2 separate regions of the Homo sapiens genome follow, and region 1 is linked to region 2. Evidence: fine-mapped expression QTL. Tissue or cell type: lung. Region 2 holds a variant in brackets; the other region holds the start of a gene. All regions are shown on one strand. Distances are between the middles of the regions.

What was found.
Region 1: SFRP5 starts here. The variant in region 2 is fine-mapped to the expression of SFRP5 in lung (TOPMed, PIP 0.93).

Annotation. Positions count from the first base shown.
Region 1 is chr10:97,769,268-97,774,639 of GRCh38, forward strand. It overlaps SFRP5 (secreted frizzled related protein 5), which reads right to left and starts at 2,732. Exons shown (of 3, transcript NM_003015.3): 1 at 2,038-2,732; 2 at 401-478. The coding sequence starts at 2,566.
Region 2 is chr10:97,816,912-97,822,283 of GRCh38, forward strand. It overlaps LOC107984260 (a long non-coding RNA gene), which reads left to right and starts at 4,986. Exons shown (of 3, transcript XR_001747563.2): 1 at 4,986-5,372. The variant CTGTAAA/C (reference allele first, on the strand shown) is at 2,237.

The sequences.
Region 1 (5,372 bases), 48 kb before region 2:
ATGGACAAGGGTGCTCCACTTCCATCCTAGAGCCATCACTCCCCACCTGGCTCCATCCATCTCTGGGCTAAGCCTGCACTATCCACAGAGATGATCCAGTCATGGAGGGCCCTCTGAAAATGACACCAAGGGAGGGCTGTGGGAGCCCTGGCCGGGGTGGTTTCTGAGGCCCAAGGCCCATGGCCTTAGGGGACTTGTGATGGTCCTGAGATGATGCAGAAAGAGGTGCATTTCTCTTGGGAAAGGGTTTATGGTTATAATTGGCTTCTAAACGGGAGCCATGATGCAAAAACTGTTGGGATTCACTGTGATGGATGTGGGCATGTATGTTCCCGTGTGCGTCAAGAAAGAGGGGCTGGGGGTGATGTCGGGGCAGTGGCAGCGTGGGCCCCACACTCACCAAAGTCACTGGAGCACATCTGCTCCATGAGGCCGTCAGCACTGTGCTCCATCTCACACTGGGCGCAGATCTTGGTCACTGAAGAGAGAAAGTGGGGTGGGGTTGGGGGACAGTTGGTGAGGGGATTGGAGTTCCAAGAGCCACTTGGGGTGCAGGCTTCCTCACTGACCAGCCACTTCCCCTTGCCAAGCCTCTACTTCCTTATCAGGAGATGGGATGATGGCAATCATATCACTACCTGCTCACAGAGTGATTGACAATCACCAGACAGGCTGTGCAGTGACAAAACTGCCAGGTGGGCACAGTGACTGCCCCATGACCCTGGCGGCTGCAGCCATGATGTGCATTGTCTTTTAAATTTTATCTCCTCTCATCCTCAGCCTATGAAATAGGGATTCTTATTCCTATTTTATTTTTGAGATGTAGTCTCGCTCTGTCACCCAGGCTGGAGTGCAGTGGCTCTCTAATCTCAGCTTACTGCAACCTCTGCCTCCCAGGTTTAAGCGATTCTTCTGTCTCAGCCTCCCGAGTAGCTGAGATTACAGGCGTGTGCCACCACGCTCGGCTAATTTTTGTATTTTCAGTAGAGACGGGGTTTCACCATGTTGGCCAGGCTGGTCTAGAACTCCTGACCTCAAGTGATTCACCCACCTTGGCCTCCCAAAGTGCTGGGATTACAAGTGTGAACCACTGCGCCCAGCCCTTACTCCTATTTTGGAGAAAAGGGAACCGAGGCCCAGAGCGGTTACTCAAGTCTGACAGCAGACGGGGAGGAAGGGGGAGAGGGCATGGAGCCAGCCTGGAAGAGCTATGTGGACCAGCACAGAAAAGGGGAGGCTGAGACCAGGGAGAAATTAGGGTTCAGGGGACTGAGGGGTGGGTGGGAGGAGGGACTTAGGACCTCATAGGTTTCATGAGCCTGGGATGGCTTCCTATTTTATGGATGGGGAAACTGAGGCTCAGTGAAGTCAAGCAACTTGCCTAAGGGCTTCTCTTCAGGGGCAGAGCCTAATCTGCTCTTCCTTCCGCACTGAGCCTTACCCGAATGACTCCCAGCCAGGGGAACTGGGGAAGAGGGTGGAGATCTTAGGGTTCCAGGTACAGAAAACGGGGACGCAGATCATAGTCCAGAACATTCTTAGTCCCCAGTCTTTCTCCACATCCCTTCCCTCACCTCTCCTCTCTTCCCAAGGTCCCAACACGGAGTGGGGATGATGCTTGCTTTGGTGCCTCGGGATCCAGGTGAAAGGCATTGTTTAACGACCCCAGGCATTCTTGGGCTGAGAGGGGTCATAAGGCATTTATCAGGACGTCCCAGGATTGGGGGGACGGCATTGGGGGATTCTCAGCAGCTTGGTTGGATGGGTACTGAGAGGGGTGCCAGGGGTTTCCAGGGAACGAGAGCCAGAGGGAAGGTCTGGAGCCGCCGGGAGGCACTATGCTGCCACTCCCTGGGGAGGTGGGAAGGCGGGAAGGCTGCGGGGGATAATTCCGGGGACGCTGGGCTGAGCTAGGACAGCGTGTGTGTGTGTGTGTGGGCGGAGGGGGGGAGCTGCACCTCTTGGGGGGTTCGCAGAGCTGTGCTAGGGGAGCTGCAGGGCCGTCGGAGCGCGCGGGGACGGCGGCGGCGGCGCTACCTGGAGGCGCGGTGGCGGGCAGGTGCCCGAACTGCACGGCGATGCAGAGGTCGTTGTCCAGGGGGAACTTGTGGCAGTGCAGCATCTCAGGCCAGGGGAAGCCGTAGGCCTCCATGAGCGGCGCGCAGCCGGCGCGCACGGCCTCGCACAGCGAGCGGCACGGGTAGATGGGCCGGTCGAGACAGACGGGCGCAAAGAGCGAGCACAGGAAGACCTGCGTATCCGAGTGGCAGCGCTTGGCCAGCAGCGGCAGCCAGCTGCTCGCCTGCTGCTTCACTTCGGCCAGGCTCTCGTGCTCCAGCAGGTTGGGCAGCCGCATGCGCTTGTAGCCCACCGTGTGGCAGAGCGGCAGGTCGGCAGGGATGTCAAGGCACTGCGGCGGCTTGGAGTAGGAGCGGCCGTGCAGCGGCTCGGCCTGCCAGCCATAGTAGTCGTACTCCTCGCAGCGCGCCGGCGCCCAGTGCAGCGCCCCCAGCAGCAGCGCCAGCGCGGCCGTCCGCACGCCCCCCCCCGCCGCCGCCGCCCGCATGGCTGCGCCCTCTCCAGGTGCGCGCCGCGCAGCCCCCCGACGCTCGGTGCCCGGCGGCCCAGGTGTTCCGGCGTGCGCCCCCGGCCCTGACTCTACCCAGCCGCCGCCGCCGCCGCCGCGGAGGTCGCCCAGGTGGGTGGCAGCCTGCGCTGCGGGCGCCCCGACTGATCCTGGCGCCTCCCACCTCGGGGCTCCAGCCCGGGCCTCGCCGTGCGCCCCAGCCAATCTCCGGCCGCCTGGCCCCAGCTCCAAGGCGGGGAGGCAGTGGGGGCGGCCCTCAGCCCCTCCCGCACCCTGCCCGAGCGTCCCGCCCAGCGCCAGGTCTTGCGCCCCTCTCCCGGCTCGGCTCCCCTGCCGCAGCCCTGGCCTCGCCCAGCGTTTCTCCCCAGGGCTCCCTGCCTCCCTGGGCATTTTCCTCGACCCTCGCCTTCTCCATCCTTCCTCCTTATCTCTCTCCGCCACAGCCTCTCCTGTTCCTTTTCTCACTCACTTCACTTGCTTATCTCTCTGCCTTGGCTTTTCTCCCTCTGCTCTGTTTTCTCTTCCCCGACACCTCGGTTCCTCTTCTCCCTGGTGGGAGGCTCGTGCCACCCCACACCCTGGATCTTCTGGTCCTCCTGGCAGGTCTTCATTGAGCTTGGTGCCAGGCCCCATGCTGGCTGCTGGGGAATCAAAGATGGATATGACCCAGAACCCACCTCCAGGGCCAGGATAGTCTAGTGGGGGTGAAGGTAATCATAGCTTCTATTTAGTGAGCTCTTACTACCTGCCAGGGACGGTGCAAGGTGCAAGGTGCGGTGCAAGGTGCGGTGCAAGGTACGTTCCAAGCTTATCAGCTATTGCTAATGATAGCCAATACTTAGTGGGTGCTAATTGTGTGCCAAGTCTGATCTGAGCACATTGCATAAACTCCCTCAGCTAATTCTCACAATAAGGCTAGATGGTGGGTAGGTACTATTATTGTCCCCACCTTACAGATAAAGATCCTGCGGCAGAGAGGTTAAGCACAGATTAGAGCTGGGATTTGAACCCAGATAGTCTTTTTCGAGAGTCAGAGCCCAGAAACAACCAGGAGGCCTGGATTCTGAGTCTGTAGGCCTAATGACCAAGGGGATAGGGAGTTCAGAGAAGTGGAGTAACTGGCCCTTGGCCACACAGCTCATATGTGAAGGAGCTAGGATTTGAATCCAGATGTTGGGCTACAAAGGCCAGGGCTTAACCACTCTGTGGTAAGATAACTTCCAACCCATGGTAGGGAACACAGTGGGAAGAGGGGGAATTGATGGTGTGTCTGAGCAGGGCACCCAGGCAAGCATCAGAGGGGAGGGGACCTTCAGGAGCCCCATGCTTGGTGTCTTTCTCTCCTGTCTGAGTCCTGCCTTTCATTGGCTCTCCCTTGAGAGGAATTTGGACTGGAGGCTTGAAGGGAGGGGAATTCCTTCCTGAGAGCCTAGCCTGACACCTGACCTCCCAGTCTTTGGTGGGGAGGGTACCTTGGGGAGGTGTCTCCTAGGAGGGCGTGGGGAGCTGGGGGCTGGCTCTGCTGGAAGGCAGGAGTACTGGGCACTTTCCCCCTCTGCTCCTCCCCTTAGTCCCACTAATGGATGTTTCCAGGGCTCCTGTCTTCCTCTGGGTCTGTCCTTGCAGTGGTAGTGGAGAGGGGTGAGGGGCCACTCCTTAATATTCACAGAAAATGCATAGAGTACCTACTATCTGCAAGGCATGGGGTAGGGTATGCATGGGGACACAGAGGTGCAAAAGACATGGCTCTGTTCCTTCTGATCTAGTTGTAAGAAAAAGATACAAGGCAGGCAGAGGAGGCAGGAGAAGCCTCATCTCACTGAGCCCCAAGGGTGGGACAAGCCGTGTTTGATGTCCAGGATGACCTAGTGGGGTCCAGGTAGAGTAAACTTTGGCCTTCTTTTCCCCTCTCCCTCTCCCAGCCCCCAGCATGAAGAGGTTATGCAGATGGCCACTCAGAAGGTGAAGGACTGGTCTCTGCAGGGCCAGGCAGTGCAGTGTAGCAATGGTGCGAGAGCCTGGGCTCTGCAGACGATGGAGCCAGGTTCAGATCCTGGCCACATATTAGCTGTATGACCTTGGGCAAGTACTTAACCTCATTTCCTTCTTTGTAAAATGGAATTTCTTCAGCAGTTACTGTGAGAAGCAAATAAGGTGAATGGAAAGAAAGCCCCCTGCACAGTGCCAACACACAGAATGAACACCTAGGAATGTTAGATCCCCAAGGGACGTGTGACTTTGAGGTAAAAATGTGCTGTATGGGCTGGGTGCAGTTGTTCTCGCCCGTAAATCCCAGCACTTTGGGAGGCTGAGGTGAGAGGATCGCTTGAGCCCTGGAGTTTGAGACCAGCCTGGGCAACACAGCAAGACTCCATCTCTACAAAAATTAGAAAAGTTAACTGGGTATGGTGGCATGCGCCTGCAATCCCAGCTACTCTGGAGGCTGAGGTGGGAGAACTGCTTGAGTTCAGGAGTTCGAGGTTACAGTGAGCTGTGATTGCACCATTGCACTCCAGCCTGGGCAACAGAGCAAGACCCTGTCTCTTAAAAAAAGAAAGTGGTGGCTGGGCATGGTGGCTCATGCCTGTAATCCCAGCACTTTGGGAGGCCGAGGTGGGCAGATCACCTGAGGTCAGGAGTTTGAGACCAGCCTGGCCAACATGGTGAAATCCTGTCTCTACTAAAAATACAAAACTTAGCCGGGCGTGGTGGTGCGTGCCTGTAATCCCAGCTACTCAGGAGGCTGAGGCAGGAAAATTGCTTGAACCCAGGAGGAGGAGGTTGC
Region 2 (5,372 bases):
TCCTTAATAATGAGGTTCCTGGGGAGCAAAATATGGGAGGCCCTCATTCTCAGGGTGGTGAAGGGCCCACTCCCCACCCACTCCTGCCAGAACTTGAGAATGCGGGCTCCCTAAATGTCCCACTCTCCCAAACTTGTCTGGTCCTGCATCCTGGTTACTGCACTCAGGGAGCCCGAGGGATGTGCTGGGATTGCAGGTGAAGGAGAGGGTGGGGCAGGCAGAGCATTCAGGACCTCTCACACCAGACCATGGCTTCTCAACCCCAGCTGCACACAGGAAGCCCCCGGGAAGCTTTAACATTTCCTGATGCCAGGACCCCATCCCCAGAGATTTGGATTTAATGAATCTGGGGTGCAGCTGGTGTTGGGATTTTTAAAACTCCCCAGGGGATTCTAATGGGCAGCAAACTTTGAAAACCTCTGATCTGGATGGAGCAGGGAGGGTGTTGTTTATGGGTTTTCCTTCCATCTGTTTTAGTTGGAAGCAACAGACCGACAAGCAGGACACAGACTTCTAAGGGTAATGCTGTTTTTTTTTTTCTTTGAGATGGTGTCTCACTCATTCCGATTGTACAGTGGCATAGTCTTGGCTCACTGCAACCTCCGTCTCCCAGGTTCAAGTGTTTCTCCTGCCTCAGCCTCTCGAGTAGCTGGGATTACAGGTGCTCACCACCACGCCTGGCTAATTTTTGTATTTTTAGTAGAGACGGGTTTTCACCATGTTGGCCAGGCTGGTCTCGAACTCCTGAGCTCAGGTGATCTGCCCGCCTTGACCCCCCAAAATGCTGGGATAACAGGAGTGAGCCACCGTGCCCGGCCTGGGTAACACTTTTGCTGGTAACACCAATAGCTGAATGCTGTTGTCAACATTCAACAAGGTGAATGGACTATGAGGAGGACGGAAAGAAGCCTAAGATTCAAGCTCCCAATCTGTGCCACATGCATCATGTTTGCCACTTAACGGTCAGTCCTGGGAGTTTACAGATGAGGAGCTTGAGTCTTGGCCAGGCTAAGGACTTTGCCTGCGCCTCACAGCTGTGGAATTGTAGAGCCTTAAATGAAATTGATGTGTGACAAGGTGCTGGTAGGAATGAAAGTCCTTCCTGTTGCTTTCAGATTGATTTTCTAAATAAAGTATTTCTGGGGTCAGCTGGTGGAGGAGAGGGCTTGGGAAAGAACTGGGCCCCGACTCCTCTCTGCCTGCAAGATAGAGGGTGGGGAGGAGCTGAAGGCTATTTTAGGCCCCGTCCCCCATCAGATTCTGTCGGAATCTGGCCTCAGCCAGCTGCCTCAAGTGATTTTAAGGAAAAATACCTCTCCCTCTGCTTAAAGACAAATAGATCCCTGAACGTAAAGTGAGTTGACTAGTGTGATAAAAACGGGCCTCCTCCTTGCCTCCAAATTCTCTCACACACACACACACACACACACACACACACACACACACGTATGCACACATACACACACTCAGAGTTACCGCAATTCCACCACCTAGGTGATTAGATTGAGCCAGAAAATACTCATGGGAGGGTAAGTGGGGAGACAATTCCATCTGTTACAGCATATTATAGGTTACAGAGTACTTTTATAGGGGGCTGATCCTACATTCTCAGCAGACCTATGCATCCTGCTAGACAGCAAACACCGTGGGGAATATGCCACAGAGGCTTCTGTAGATGCAAAGAGAGAGCATTTAAGGTGAGGCTTGGAAGATGCTGAAAGTTGCTCTTTAATGGGTAACTTTATGCAAAAGAATTGTCCCACTGGCTTCCAAAGCAGTAACAATGCTGTGAGCAGCTTTTTGCTGTGGTGACAAAAGTTCACTTTCTCCTACTGAGAGTGGTTTCTGCATTCTCAGTTGGTTCATGCAGGAGCAGTGGGCCAGGGAAGAGAGCACCAGGGCTGGTTGGATTCCTGCCTGTCCACTTATGGGCTCCCTCACCTTGGGTGAGGGGATTAGCCTCTGAGTCCTGGTTTCCTCCTATGCATGTTGGGGGCTTCTGCTTCTGGCCAAGACAGGGTAGCAGGGACTGGATTTATACTCCTGCCTGAAACAATTTTTAAAAAACAGACAGAACATATGAAATAATGGTTTTCAAGACACTAGACATTAGGCTACAAGATTCAGGGGTCCCACAGAGCTCTATGGTTGTCTCTGCTTACTACCTGGAGAGTGTTTTCGGCCACAACCCAGAGAGGGGGAACTCGGGCCAGGTGGGGAGAAATGGAAGTAAATT[CTGTAAA/C]TGTAAGGTTCTTATACTCGATGTGAAGTGGCACAACATCACTTGAAGGTAAATTGTGAAAAGGTCAAGATGTGTACTATAAACACTAAAGCAACTGCTAAAATAGCAGAGTTACAGCTGCTAAGCCAATAAAGAAGATAAAATGGAATAATCAAAAATAGTCCAAAAGAAGGCAGAAAAGGGGAAAAAAATAGATGGAACAAATAGAAAACAACCTGGGGCTATGCCAGGTTCCCCTGCCTCTCCTCCTTGGAGTCAGGAGGTCCCAGCCCTGCCTCCAAGCCACACTGAACCTTGGTTTTCTCATCTGAAGAATGGGATAGCAGTTCTGACCTCTCAGGGATATCCGAGGGTTCCTCGGGAGTGTGGTGCCTGGTGCAGGATGGCTGCTTTCCCTCTTCTGTCTGCCTGGCCCAGCTCCTGCCTCTGCGCTCCTCTCCCCTCTCTTACTTGGGGGTACTTTTCTCCCTTGGACTGCCCCTGCCTCTCCAAGGCCTTCTGGGAGCCAAGTGGCTTGGCCCTGCCAGTGGGCAGGTTGAAGATTTTTCCTTCAAGACCCTCGAAGGCCAGGTGGTCAGGGGTTGGGGGGCATGAAAGTTGAGTGAGACTAAGCTTTTTGCTTTTGTTTTTGTTTTTATTATTTTTAATGTTTCATTGTGGTTTTTTTTGTTTGTTTGTTTGTTTTTTTTTTTTTTTTTAGATAAAATTCACATAACATACAAGGAACCGTGTTAAAGTGTACAATTCAGTCTGGGTGTGGTGGTCCACACCTCTAATCCCAGCACTTTGGGAGGCCAAGGTGGGAGGATCACTTGAGTCTAGGAGTTTGAAACTAGCCTGGGCAACGTGGTGAAACCCTGTCTCTACAAAAAGTAGAAGAATTAGCTGGGTGTGGTGGTGTGGGAGCTGGGGGTGGGAGGCTGAGATGGGAGGATGGCTTGAGCCTGGGAGGCAGAGGTTGCAGTGAGCCGAGATCACCCCACTGCACTCTGGTCTGGGCAACAGAGTGAGACCCTGTCTCAATAAATAAATAAATAAATAAATAAAAATTATACAATTCAGTGGCATTTAGTATATTCCCAATGTTGTACAACCACCAGTTTCAAAACCACTAGTTTCAAAATTTTTCGTCACTCCAGAAAAACACCCTGTGCCCATTAAGTAATCACTCCTCATTCTCTCCCTCCCCCCAGCCTCTGGTAACCACTCATCTGCTTTCTCCCTTTATGGATTTACCTATTGTGTTCATTTCATTTCAAAGGAATCATAGACTCTGTGGCCTTTTATGTCTGGCTTCCTTCCCTTGGCGTAATGTTTTAAGTTTCATCCATGTTATAGCAAGTGTCAGCACTTTATTTCTTTTTAATAGCTGAGTAATATTCTATTGCATGTACATAACACGATTTGTTTATCCATTCAGCCGTTGATGGACATTGAGTTGTTTCTACCTTTCGGTTACTGTGGATAGTGCTGTGATGAACATTTGTGAACAAGGGGAGTCCCTGTTTTCAGTCATTTCGAGCATATCCAAATGCGTGGAGTTGGTGGGTCATACGGAAATTCTGTTTACCTTTTGCAGAAACTGCCAAACTGCTCTCCACAGTGGCTGTACCTCCTTTTAGTTTTCATATTATATTATTCTAAGTGCAAAGATAAGACAACGCCATAGAAAATTTGGAAATTATGCCTTGAGCAATTTTTTTAAAAAAGTTTTCATTTTAAAAAATCATAAAGTTTATATAAATCCATGCTTATTGTAACAATTCAAAGACATTTCTAGCAGAAAAAAGTCTATCTGCTCCTCCATCACTTTCCCCCTAGCTGATAAATGTTGACCCTTTAGTAAGTATCTTTCCAGACATTTTCCAGGCATTGATAGAGTTTTGGGATTTTTCTTTTTACATGAACTTGTCATACTATCCATATTATTTGCTTTGAAATCTTTCTATGCATTTCTTGTGAATTTCAAGTTGGAAAGACTGTCCCAGAGCCAGGCGGGTGGTCCCTGGAGGAGAGACCCTCAGATCTGTGACCTGTCCTTGCTCTGTTAAAAAAAGTTTGGAAGTCTGGGCCACAGGTATGGACAAAGTTGTCCTTGAGTGGATGGATAAAGAATGTATTATAATTTTCTTTTTGTTATCTGCATATATAAATTCTTTGTAAAATGAGTATGAATTGCTTTTATAATAAGAAAAAAAAGTGGGGAAGAATTGAGGGCCTGCAGTCTTGGTGCCCAGCTTGTACCTTAATTTAGCACTAACTTCATTCCTTCTCATTGCATAATGAGTTGTTTATGTGTTTGCCTCCCTTGAGGGAGGACAGGCTTATTCATCTCCTTGCCCTCCCGACTCCTTCCCTGCTCAGGTCTGAGCCCCATGCCAGGCACACAGCAGGATTGCTGAACCAGCAAGTAGCCCCTGCAGGGTTGTGGTGGAGGCTGCAGAGGAGAGGGTGGGTCCCAAAGACCCCCATATGCCCTCAGCTCAGGCTCCCAAAGGAGAGTGCATAGCCGGGGGAGTCCAGGCCCCCAGGACCAGGCTCCCAGTGGTCACACTCTCTGCAGGGGCACTGGGCCCAGCCTCTGTGGGAAGCTGGGTGTGAGCGCAGGTGCAGTTATTCATGGCAGCCCTGGCCAGAGTACCCATGGCAGGCGGCATCCAGCTGAGGAGTTAATTAGAGCACTGCCAGGAGCAGGAAAGGGGGGCAGGAGGCTTGGAGGCTTGGGCTCCCTTTCCATAGAGATAGAAATAGCTGGGCTCCTGGCGGAGGCGGAGAGCAGTACACACAGGAATGGAGGTGCGAGCAGCCAGCGCCTGGGGCACAGGGTGGGGGTTGTCTTCTTGGGCTTGTCCCGTCATTCTTGTTTGGGAGGGGGAAGGGGAAGGGGCATGTGGTCTGTGGCCCGGAGGGGGCCTGTCCGAGGCCCTTCTTCTCCTTCCTGGGGCCTCCCCATCTGTCTCCCAAGCCTGGCCTGCCCGGGCTCACGGGGGGCATCACAACAGCCCCAGAGCCCTGGCCTCACCTTCCTGCCTCTAGCTTTCCATGAGAAGCAGGCTATGAAGGGGTGGGGTGGGGTTCCAGAGCTCAGGATCATTCTAGCATTTCTAGGGGGTAGTCCCTGGTGGTGCTG